Homo sapiens: one gene and its partners. The protein of the gene in region 3 purifies or fractionates together with the protein of the main gene of each other region. This does not show direct contact. Each region holds a gene or a part of one and is shown on either strand. Other genes may lie near its edges.

Region 1 (3,756 bases), on a different chromosome or scaffold from region 3:
GTGAGAAACAAAATCAACATATGAAAATCAGTTGTATGTCTATATCCTAGCAATGAACAATCTGAAAAGGAAATTAAGAAAACAATTCCATTTACAAAAGCATCAGAAAGATTTAAATACTTAGGAATAAATTTAATCAAGGAGGTGCAAGACTTGGATGCTGAAAACTATAAAGCATAAGTTAAATAAATAAATCAAAAGACATCCCATGTTCATGGATTGGGAGACATTATTGTTAGAATGTCAGTACTCCCTAAATTGATCTACGGATTCAGTGCAATCCCTATAAAAATTTTAATTATCATTTCTGCAGAAATGGACAAGGCGATCCTATAATTCATACAGAACTGCAAGAGACCCTGAATACCAAAACAATCTTGAAATAGAAGCACAAAATTAGAAGACTCACACTACACAATTTAAAAACTTACCGCAAAGCTACAGTAGTTAAATTACAAGGATAGACACCTAGATCAATGGATTCAAATTGAGATTCCAGAAATAAACCCATATTATCTATGGTCAGTTGATGGTTTTGTTTTGTTTTGTTCTGAGACAGAGTTTCACTCTTTTTGCCCAGGCTGGAGTGCAATGGCACGATCTCGGCTCACTGCAACCTCCACCTCCTGGGTTCAAGTGATTCTTCTGCCTCAGCCTCCCAAGTAGCTGGGAATACAGGCACGTGCCACCATACCCGGCTAATTTTGTATTTTTAGAGTAGAGACAAGGTTTCACCATGTTGGCCAGGCTGGTCTTGAACTCCTGACATCAGGTGATCCACCCACCTCAGCCTCCCAAAGTGCTGAGATTACAGGTGTGAGCCACCACGCCTGGCCATGATTTTTGACAAGGGCGTCAAAACCATTCAGTGGAGGAAAGAATAGTCTTTTCAACAATGATGGTGGAAGAACTGAATAGCCACATACATAAAAGCATAAAGGTGGTCCCTTACCTCATACCATATATCCCAATTAATTTAAAAATCAATCAAGGACCTAAATGGAAGAGTTAAAACTACAGAACTCTTAGAAGAAAGCATAGGGACAAATCATCATCACCTTGAATTTAGCAGTGGTCTCATAAATTATAACACCAAAAGTACAAGCAGCAAAAGAAAAATCAGGTAAATGGACTTTATCAAAGTTAAAATATTTTATGCATCAGAGGACATTGTCAAGAGGCAGAAATAGATTTGGGATTGCCAGGGATTGAGGAGGCAAGGGAGATGGGGAGTGACTACTTAATAGGTATGAAGTTTCTTGTGGGGATGATGAAAATGTCCTGGAATTACATTGTGGCGATGGTTGCACAACTCTGTGAATATATTAAAAATTATTGAATTGTATACTTCAAAATGCTTTAAACTGTGAACCTTGTTATTTGAATTTTACCTCAATGTAAAAAACCAACATTCTTCAAAGTAAGATTAATTAGGTATTCACATAATGAATTTCCTGAATTAGTATCCATATAAAATACTTTTGAACAAATCCAAGAAAACTTTAAGGGGGAAAAAATCTTTTCACCATATATCCATACAGTCATTAAAAGTATATACATTCAAAATATAAGCATATAATTATGTTTATATTTTGATTTATACCCATCTAGGTCTTTTAAAAACTGTTTTTATTATGGTTATTTTAAAATATTTCAGTCGGTTTTTGGAATGGCAGTCAGGAAGCCTAGTGTTTTTGATTTTTGTTTTTGTTTAGAGACAGGGTCTTGCTCTGTTGCCCAGGCTGGAGTGCAGTGGTAGGATGATAGCTTCATTGTAACCTCAAACTCCTGGCCTTAAGCAATCCTCTTGCCTCAGCCTCCAAAGTAACTAGGACTACAGGTGCACACAACCACACCCAGCTAATTTTTAAATCTTTATTATTATTGTTTTATAGAGAGAGGGTCTCGTTGTGTTGCCCAGGCTAGTCTCGAACTACTGGCCTCAAGTGATCCTCCTGCCTTGGCCTCCCAAACTGCTGGGATTATAGCCATGAGCCACTGTGCCTGGGCAGGAAGGCCAGTGTTTAAAGCAGCAGTGTATCTAATGCTTCACAGGGATCTAGTGTAATGTAATGGAGAAATCTTTGTTGATTAGTGAAATTGTTATGTATTATAGGGTCTTCTTATTTGAAGGATGATGAAATGGTATGATTTGCATTTTCTATAACTGAAGAACGTTTTTGTCCCCACTTAACGATAGCTACCTGCCATCACTTTTGTTTAATGCTTGGTCTTGTACGTTTATCAATAATTTCTCTCCTCTTGCTGAGATAAGCACTAATTATTAGAAATATAATGCAAGCCACATATGTAACTTTAAATTTTCTAGTAGCCACATTTAAAAAGTAAAAAGAAATAGGTGAAATTAATCTGAATAATGTTTTATTTAGCTATATTCAAAATATTAATTTTTTTTTTTTTTTGAGACGGAGTCTCACTCTGTCACCCAGGCTGGAGTGCAGTGGTGCAATCTTGGCTCACTGCAAGCTCCGTCTCCCAGGTTCATGCCATTCTCCTGCCTCAGCCTCTCAAGTAGCTAGGACTACAGGCACCCGCCACTGCGCCCAGCTAATTTTTTGTATTTTTTTTAGTAGAGACAGGGTTTCACCGTGGTCTCGATCTCCTGACCTCGTGATCCGCCCGCCTCGGCCTCCCAAAGTGCTGGGATTACAGGCATGAGCCACCGCGCCCGGCCCAAAATATTAAACTATTTTAACATATAGTCAGTACTTTTCTAAAATCTGTTAATGAAGAACTTTACATTCTTCTAAGTCTTCAAAATTCGTTGTGCATTTTTACACTTGCATCACATCTCAATTCAGACGCATCACATTTCAAGTGCTCAATAACCACATGTGGCTAATGCCTAGAATACTGGACAGTGCCGTCTTAGATAATCACAACTAGGATATTGTCTGTAGAAGAGATGGATTTGTTATTTCTGGGAATGGAATAACAACATTTTGTTTCTCTTTGTGGCCCCAAAACAAGCATTAGTTTATTAGCCAGGTGTTGACTTAAAAGATACAAAGAAAAGCCTCTGTGTTTTAGTGGGGTGAAGAAAAGAAAACTTGGCATAAGCATAGTTTTGAGGAATGAGAATAGGAGTGTAGGAGGAAGGACCTGAATTCAGAACAAGGGAAGTTATACTGCATAATATTGTGGATAAGTCCATGTGTGGATGGGACAGCATGCAGAGGGGAGTACTCAGATTTGGGGAAAATGTCTAGTCCTGGACTATGTTTCTGAGTCAGATGTTAAAAGTGCCTAGTTGGCCAAGGGACTATCTTCCCAATCTTCACCCTCCCCATACCTGCCCCATGAAATGGATGTCATAAATTATATAGCGACTAAAAGCAGGTATGATCAACCGGGCATGGTGGCTCACGCCTGTAATCCCAGCACTTTGGAAAGCTGAGGCAGGTGGATCACCTGAGATCAGGAGTTCTAGACCAGCCTAGCCAACATGTTGAAACCCCATCTCTACTAAAAATACAAAAATTAGCCGGGCGTGGTGCTGCATGCCTGTAATCCCAGCTACTCGGGAGGCTGAGGCAGGAGAATTGCTTGAACCCAGGAGGCCCAGGTTTCAGTGAGCCAAGATTGGGCCATTGCACTCCAGCCTGGGTGACAAAAGCAAAATTCCATCTCAAAAAAAAAAGCAGGTATGACCAGTAGAGGGTATACAATTCAGATAATTCTTTATAAATCTTCTTTTCTCCCCCCTTTCACAAAAAGAAAACACAGGACAATGGG
Region 2 (3,756 bases), on a different chromosome or scaffold from region 3:
ATCAATTTTCCTTCATTCTTCTCATAACTATTTTCTCATACTTAAGAGGTCAACACAGATGAAAATTATCTGTGCTTTTTTCTAAGCTGATATATTATTTAATTTTTAAAAATGCAATACAACTTCCACTTCTGCTCTTGAAGAAGGAATTGCTATGGGGCTTGCCTTCCCACCATGAATAACTAGAAAACTAGACAAAATATATAAAGCAACTGTTTTTAGACACTGGACAACAGGCAGTGCAGGACTATGATCCCTGAAAGGAAACAAACCAGGTGAGCTCTATGAATCCCTTGGCTTTCTGCTGGAGGCATGCTCCAGACTGTGGCACAGGCAAGAAGAAGGCAAGCATAACAGGGCAGTTGCTAAATTGAGGAGACGGAGTTCAGGGTGACTGGTAGTTAGAATGTTTAAACAAAGTACCAGAAAGGAGGAAGCTACACAGAGAAAGAGCTTCAGAAATCTGAACAGTAGTCACCTTCAGTTTTGGCTGAACACTGATTTACTAAGGTATAGGTTGAAACTGCATGAGGGAAATTAGAAAATATTTTGAACAGAATGAAAATAACACAATATATAAAAATGTGTGGGATACAGTTAAAGCAATGTCTAGAGGGACATTCGTAATTTTAAATGCTTATTTCAGAGAAGAAAAGTCTATAAAATCAATGATTTAGAGAGACACATGGAGAAAACGACATGTGATGACAGAGGCAGAGATTGGAGCAATACGGCTGCAAGCCAAGGAAAGCCAGGATTGACAGCAACCACTAGAAGCTAGGGGGAGGCAAGGAAGGAATTCCACCTCCAGTCTCCAAAGACATCAACCCTTCTAACACCTTGATTTTGGATTTCTAGCCTCCATAACTATTAGCATACACAGGGTTCTCTGCTCTTATCTGGGAGACAGTTCAGGAGACAGATGGCCCAAATCCAGGGATCACTAACATCTGGGGATGTGGCTGTGGCCTGCACCCAGGTCGAATGGAGATAACCTAATAATACACTTAACAGGACCTGTACAGCCATGTGATGCTGGAAAACTATGGGAATCTTGTGCCTGTGGGTTTCTCTCTTTCAAACCAAAACTAATCACCCAACTGCAGCAAGGAGCCTGGATGGAGGCGTCAGAACTGCGTCAGGTACCTCTGCAGTCCAGGAGTACTGGTTTGAAACAAAGATCTTAACCCTAAAGCAAAATACTCTGAAGTTCTGCAAGAGCAAACAAAAAGTGTCATGATAGAAAGAGGCCTGGATTGAGAGGGAGGAGGTTCCACAGAGATGCGGTGCTATAAATGAAAAGAATGTGGGAAAGTACAATTCGAATACAACTCTTCCTCTTTTAGCCACCAGAGCAATCATACTAGTGAGAAACCCCATAAATATAAAGAATGTGGAATAGTCTTCATGAGCAGACTATCCTACTATCACCCCTTTCAAATCATCATAAGCTCACACAGGCGAGCAACTTTACAGATGTACTGAATGTGGCAAATTCCTCAAGCACTCAACATTTATTAATCATCAGAGAACTTATTCTAGAGAGAAATACCAATAAACGTGAAAAAGCTTTCAGAAAAAAACAGCCCTTTCTTTTTTTTTTTTTTTTTGAGAAGGAGTCTCACTCTGTCACTGCAGAGCAAGGCGTGAGCCACCACGCCTGGTCAAAACTGTCCTTTCAAGTCATCAGAGAATTCATACAGTCAGGAACTCTACAAACACGACTGTGGGAAACTGTTCAGAAGGCAGTCGTTACTCATCAGGAGAGAAAACACAGTGGAGATAAGCCTTTTAAAAACATTTATTTATTTATTTATTTATTTATTTATTTATTTATTTAGAGACAGGTTCCCACTCTATTGCCCAGGCTGGAGAGCAGTGGCACATCATGACTCGATGCAGCCTTGACCTTCGGGCCCAAGCAATCCTCCTGACTCAGCCTCCCAAGATGCTAGGACTACAGGTGAGCATCACTGTGTCTGGCTAATTTTTTAACTTTTTGTCAGAGATGGGGTCTCCCTATGTTGCCCAGGCTGCTCTTGAACTCCTGGGTTCAAGCAATCCCCTGACCTTCGCTTCCCAAAGTGTTGGGATTACAGGTGTGAGCCACTGCGCCTGGCTGAAAAAAAAAAGCCTTTTAAATGTAAGGAATGTGGGAAAGCTTTCAGAGATAACTCAACTTTGTTGGAGCATCAGAAAAACCATCTTAGTGAAAAAGTACATTGGTGTAATAAATACAGAAAAGCCTTTAGTAAGAGCTTGACTCTTATTAGTCATCAAAGATTTCATACAGGAGAGAAACTCTATCACCATATTAAATGTGAAATCTTTTTCAGGTATAGAAAGATTTGCTGGGCAAATCTCCTTTGCTGGGCATCAGAAAACTCATAGTGGAAATAAACCCTATCAGGGCAATGACTGTAGGAAAGCCTTTACAAAGAGCTCAACTCTTATTGGACATCAAGGAATTCATACTGGGGGGAAAAAAAAACAAAAAACCAAAAACCTTTCACTATAAGAAATGTGGGAAAGCCTTCGGGTACAGCCAAGGCCTTGCTGAAAATCAGAAAATCCATATCTTATGAATGTAATGAATGTGGGAAGCTTTTCCCCAAAGTTCAGCCCTTAAACAACATAAGAAAATTTATAACAAAGTCATCAAGCCAGGCATGGTGGCTCATGCCTATAATCCCAGCACTTTGGGAAGATGAGGTGGGAGGACCACTTGAGCCCATGAGTTCAAGACCAGACTGGGCAACATAGTGAGACCCCATCTCTACAAAAGATAAAAATTACTAAAAAATAACATTTTTAAAAAGAATGGGTCATCAAATGTAGTGTGGTAAACATGCAAAAGTAGTTTATTTCTTCTGACCATCAAAGAGGAGATATTTAATAAGTGCACCGCTATCTAGAAGCCTTCTCATTTGTAAGGATGTTCACTGTAGTATGGTTTGTATTAGTGAAATAGCTGAAGAACCTAAATGTCTGTCAGTATGGAAATAGTTGCTGCAGAATACTATGTACCATTTGAAAGAAATGGCATAGAATTTTATATACAGCCATAGAAATATCCCCCCTCATAACTTAAGTGGAAAAAGCAAGTTGCAGAAAATCTATATATTATGTTCTTATTTATATTTTTAACAATGAAGCTATTTTTGTTTGTCCACATATATTACCTGGATTCAAAAAGATCTAAGCCAGGCGTGGTGGCTCATGCCTGTAATCCCAGCACTTTGGGAGGATGAGGCAGATGGATCACTTGAGGTCAGGAGTTCGAGACCAGCCTGGCCAACATGGCAAAACCCCGTCACTACTAAAAATACAAAAATTAGCCAGGTGTGGTGGCACACATCTGTAATCCCAGTTACTCAGAAGGCTGAGGCAGAAGGATTGCTGGAAATGGGAGGGGGAGTTGCAGTGAGCCAAGAGCATGCCACTGTACTCCAGCCTGGACAACAGAGCAAGACTCTGTCTCAAAAAAAATAAATAAATAAAATAAAATAAAAAGATCTGGAAAAATAAAAGCCAAACTTTGACCAAAAAAAAAAAAAATCAATGATCTTTGCTTCCATCATAAAATCTGGGGAAAAAAAAGAGTAAATTAAACCCCAAAGTAAGTAAAGGAAAGAAATGATAAAGAGAAGAGTAATCGAACAAAAAACAATAGAGAAAAATCAAGGAAACAAAAGCCTAGTTGTTCAAAAGATCAATAAAGCTGATAAATCTCTAGTCGGACTGACCACGGGAAAA
Region 3 (3,756 bases):
AGAAGTTTTCGACAGATGGCTTCAGGATGAAGGGGACATCGTCCTGGATGGAGCACACTGTCTTTCCATTGTTCCCGGAATCTCTGTCTCTAATCCTAAAAACAGCCACGACTGTCTCGGGTGAGTTTTCTGCAATTGGGCTAGTAAGTGAAGACAGGAGCAGCTCGGGTCGATTATCGTTTATATCTGTTACATCAACCACTACAGTGCATTTTCCAGAAAGCCCGCCGCCGTCTTTGGCCTGAATAGTTAATGTGTAAGTTTGAATTGCCTCATAGTCCAATTGCGCTTTAAGATGAAGACTGCCAGATGTTGGATTGATTTGAAACGTTTTGAGAATTCTTTCAGTGGCGTAAGAAAATGCATAGGCTATTTCCCCATTACTTCCGGTATCTAAATCTCTGGCTGACACGGAGACAACCATGGAACCAACGGGGCTATTTTCGGGCACCTGCACCTTGTAGAGCGACCGCACAAAATCAGGGGCGTTGTCATTTACGTCTAGAACCAGAATGCGCACGAGGGCGGTCCCTGATCTTGGAGGAGAGCCGCCGTCTAAAGCGGTGAGGGTTAAACTGAACTCTGGTATCTCTTCCCGATCCAGCACTTGATTCAGCACCAATTCGGGATAGATATTCCCCTCCCCGCTATCATGGACATTAATATGGAAATAGGCATTGGGGCTGATGGTGTAGTTACTCAGGCTGTTGGTTCCAACATCTGAATCCTGTGCACTCTCTAGGAGAAATGCCGCCCCTGGAGTGGTACTTTCTAATATTTTCAAGGAAATCTCTCTGTCTAGAAATACTGGAGCGTGATCATTGATGTCTCTGACCCATAGTTCAGCACGGAAAATCTGAAAAGGTTTTTCCAATAACAACTGGAAAGGCAGCACACAGGGCTCTCTGGGGCCACACAGTTCCTCTCGGTCCAATTTCTCATTTAGAAGTAGATCACCAGTAAGCGAACTGAGCAGTAAAATTTGCATGTTCTGGTCTGAAACAATTCTAGTTCCCCGGGCTCTCAGTTCCCCTACCCCTAACCCTAGGTCTTTTGCCAAGTTGGTAAGAAAGGTGCCTCTCTCGGTTTCCTCCGCCACAAAATACCGAAGCGGTTCGGCGCCAGCCCAAGACATTCCCAGAAATACACAAAGAAATAAGACTTGCCTTTTCTGCACAGCACGCTCCACTCTGGCCTCCATTCTTCTTTGGATCAGTCTTTCAAAATGACTTTCACTCAGCCTCCAGCGGCTCTCACAAATGGCAGCAGCGGAATCCTTTGAAATGAGCTGAATAATAGCAATGTTTGTGGGGAAGGATCCTCATTTTACCCCAATTCCTATTACCACTGTTTCCTTTCCTATGCTTTTCTCTTCAGATTGCCTCTTTGCTCTGGAATCTGTAACATCCTTTCTTTGTGAAATTATTTTTCTCTCTCTCTTTTTAGCCAGCAGCGCCACCTTGCGTTTTGTGGATGTTATTCCCGTTATCAAGACTAGAACAAAAAGATGGCGGATTGAAGGAATTCTGCAACAAGAATGATTTGTCCCCGGTATCTTTGCTGTTTCATTCCATCTTTATCCTCAAATGGTCACAGTAATGCTAGTAAGTAATAGCTGATGTCGTTTTCCCCTGTGATAATCTGGATTCGTAGAAGAATTAATTTATAGTCTTCTTAAATCTAGGAGCATGAAACTAAACTCTGACTCCCCACCGAAATCCTAAGAAAATCTCCTATTTTAAAAATGGATAGTAAAAATATATATGAGAAAATGAAACCTCCTCCTTGAAGTCAACAAATATTGGTTGGGGACATTTTATTTATTTGTAAAGTATTTAACAATAATAATGTGAATATGGCAGAATAATTGACCCTTTTCCCAATTTCTTGTGAATTAAACAATTATTCCACTTTCCAGGTCTTAACTCTTTACCTGTGATATTTCTTGGAACACTTTATGCCTCCCCCAAACCCAACCTTCATCCTTCACCTGATTTAAGTATTACATAAGAAATTATTGTTCCTCTATAATTTCAGTGACTAGAATCTCCAATGTCCAATGAATACTCTTAAAATTAGTAGTAGCAAGTTGGTCAATCTTGCATTTGTGGAAGTGCTTCTAGCATTTCATCTTCAACTATGATGGTTGATCTCAATTTGGGGTAAATATTCCTTTTTTGAATCAATAAAGTTTTCTTTTTATTCTTTCATATTTTGAAGTGATTTTTGATAGCTGTTGAAATAATACATTTATTCTTTAGTTTCTAAATTACTGAGTTATTGATATAAATGACATTTAACCATAATGTATTATTGTTTTAGTGCACAGATAGATATGATGTGTCAACATGGTTTTAGGATTTTTCTAGTTAATGTTGTTTACCTAGTGCGTGTTTGCCTTTTATGGCCTTGGTATTAAACTATTATACTGGCATCATAGAATGTGTTAGGGAGCTTTTTATCTATTTTATACAATAGTTTTAATAATTATATTATTATATGTTTCTACATGCTTAATTCCAGCTTGTCTTTTAAACTGGTTGGGTTTGGTGACTTCACTTGCAGTAGATCAGTGACTACCATTTACATTTTACCTTTGGTTATTAATCTGTTCAGGTTTTGTATTTTTAAGTAACTTGCATTTTATTTTGAAAATCATTTTATCTAGTTTGCAAATTTCTTGGAATTGTTTTCATTGCGTTATTTACCTTTAATTGTATCCCTATTTTTATTAGTGATGTTTAGCATTTTAACTCCTTTTTATTCTTGGTGAGACTTGCAAGAGCTCTACTTTACTGATATTTTGAAATGCATTTTTTTCAAAATAATATATGACCTTGGTCCAAAATTAAATAGCACTAAGAGGCTTGTTCTGCCCTTTTCCTCCTCACTTTTCTTAGTTCCCCTTCTAAGAGGTAGCCATTTTAAAACTCTTTTAGTTATCTCTTCAGTCACTAATCTGTTTTCTGATATATTTTGATTAATTAATTTTAGAAATTATCAATTGACTGTTTATTATGTTAGATTACATTTTAGGTATTTTAGATTTTCTTTTACTTACCATATATTGGGAACATTATTGTGTATTAATTATGTTTTCTTTTTCAATTTTTTTGTGATTTTAATAATTATCTTGCCTTTTCATTTACTTGATTTTTTTTATCCCTATCACTTATTCATCCCACAGATACAATTGCCTGTCAGTGCAATTTTCCCCATAGTCATTTCCATTCCTCCTGAGACTTCAATTTTTCTTTAAATTGGGTGGTTGCTTTCTGTGCCTACTGCACAGCTATCATTCTGGATTTTTTTCTTTGCTGTCATTCTTGGAATTCTTTGCCTTTTATTCTGGATGTGTTTGCTATTTCTGGGATTTTATAACTTGCCCTTTTTCAGTTTACTCTATGGCATTACTAGAACACATCCTCCAATAGGTTCATATGATTGAAAAGATGATACAATGTTAAGAGGATTGCTAATGATATCCTTCAAAATCTCTGTCTCTTGAGTCAAACAGCTCCTTACTGGACTAGTTGTTCATTATGCTCAGTTGTCATCCTTGGATCATCCTTCAGCATCACCTGGAGATTCATTTCACTTCTGTCCTGTTTTGGATCTTCTAGTTTCTGTTTCTTCTGTCTTCTCCTGTCTTGAATTAGGTTCTCATTTTGATAGATACCTTCCAGTAGTTTTCGGAGAAGGGTGTTTCAGAGTTAAATGTTTTTGTGATCTTAAATGTACTAAGATGTCTTTATT

The links.
Region 1: the proteins of PCDHB7 (region 3) and ST7L purify together in Homo sapiens (affinity purification with mass spectrometry; 2 studies listed by BioGRID and IntAct, with this or other methods). This does not show direct contact.
Region 2: the proteins of PCDHB7 (region 3) and KIAA0319L purify together in Homo sapiens (affinity purification with mass spectrometry; 2 studies listed by BioGRID and IntAct, with this or other methods). This does not show direct contact.

What each region holds. Positions count from the first base shown.
Region 1 is NC_000001.11:112,584,400-112,588,155, reverse strand, and holds part of ST7L (suppressor of tumorigenicity 7 protein-like), read left to right. Parts: intron 1-3,756.
Region 2 is NC_000001.11:35,508,787-35,512,542, forward strand, and holds part of KIAA0319L (dyslexia-associated protein KIAA0319-like protein), read right to left. Parts: intron 1-3,756.
Region 3 is NC_000005.10:141,170,281-141,174,036, reverse strand, and holds the start of PCDHB7 (protocadherin beta-7 precursor), read right to left. Parts: upstream 1,394-3,756; 5' UTR 1,202-1,393; coding exon 1-1,201. UniProt on the Homo sapiens protein: Potential calcium-dependent cell-adhesion protein. May be involved in the establishment and maintenance of specific neuronal connections in the brain.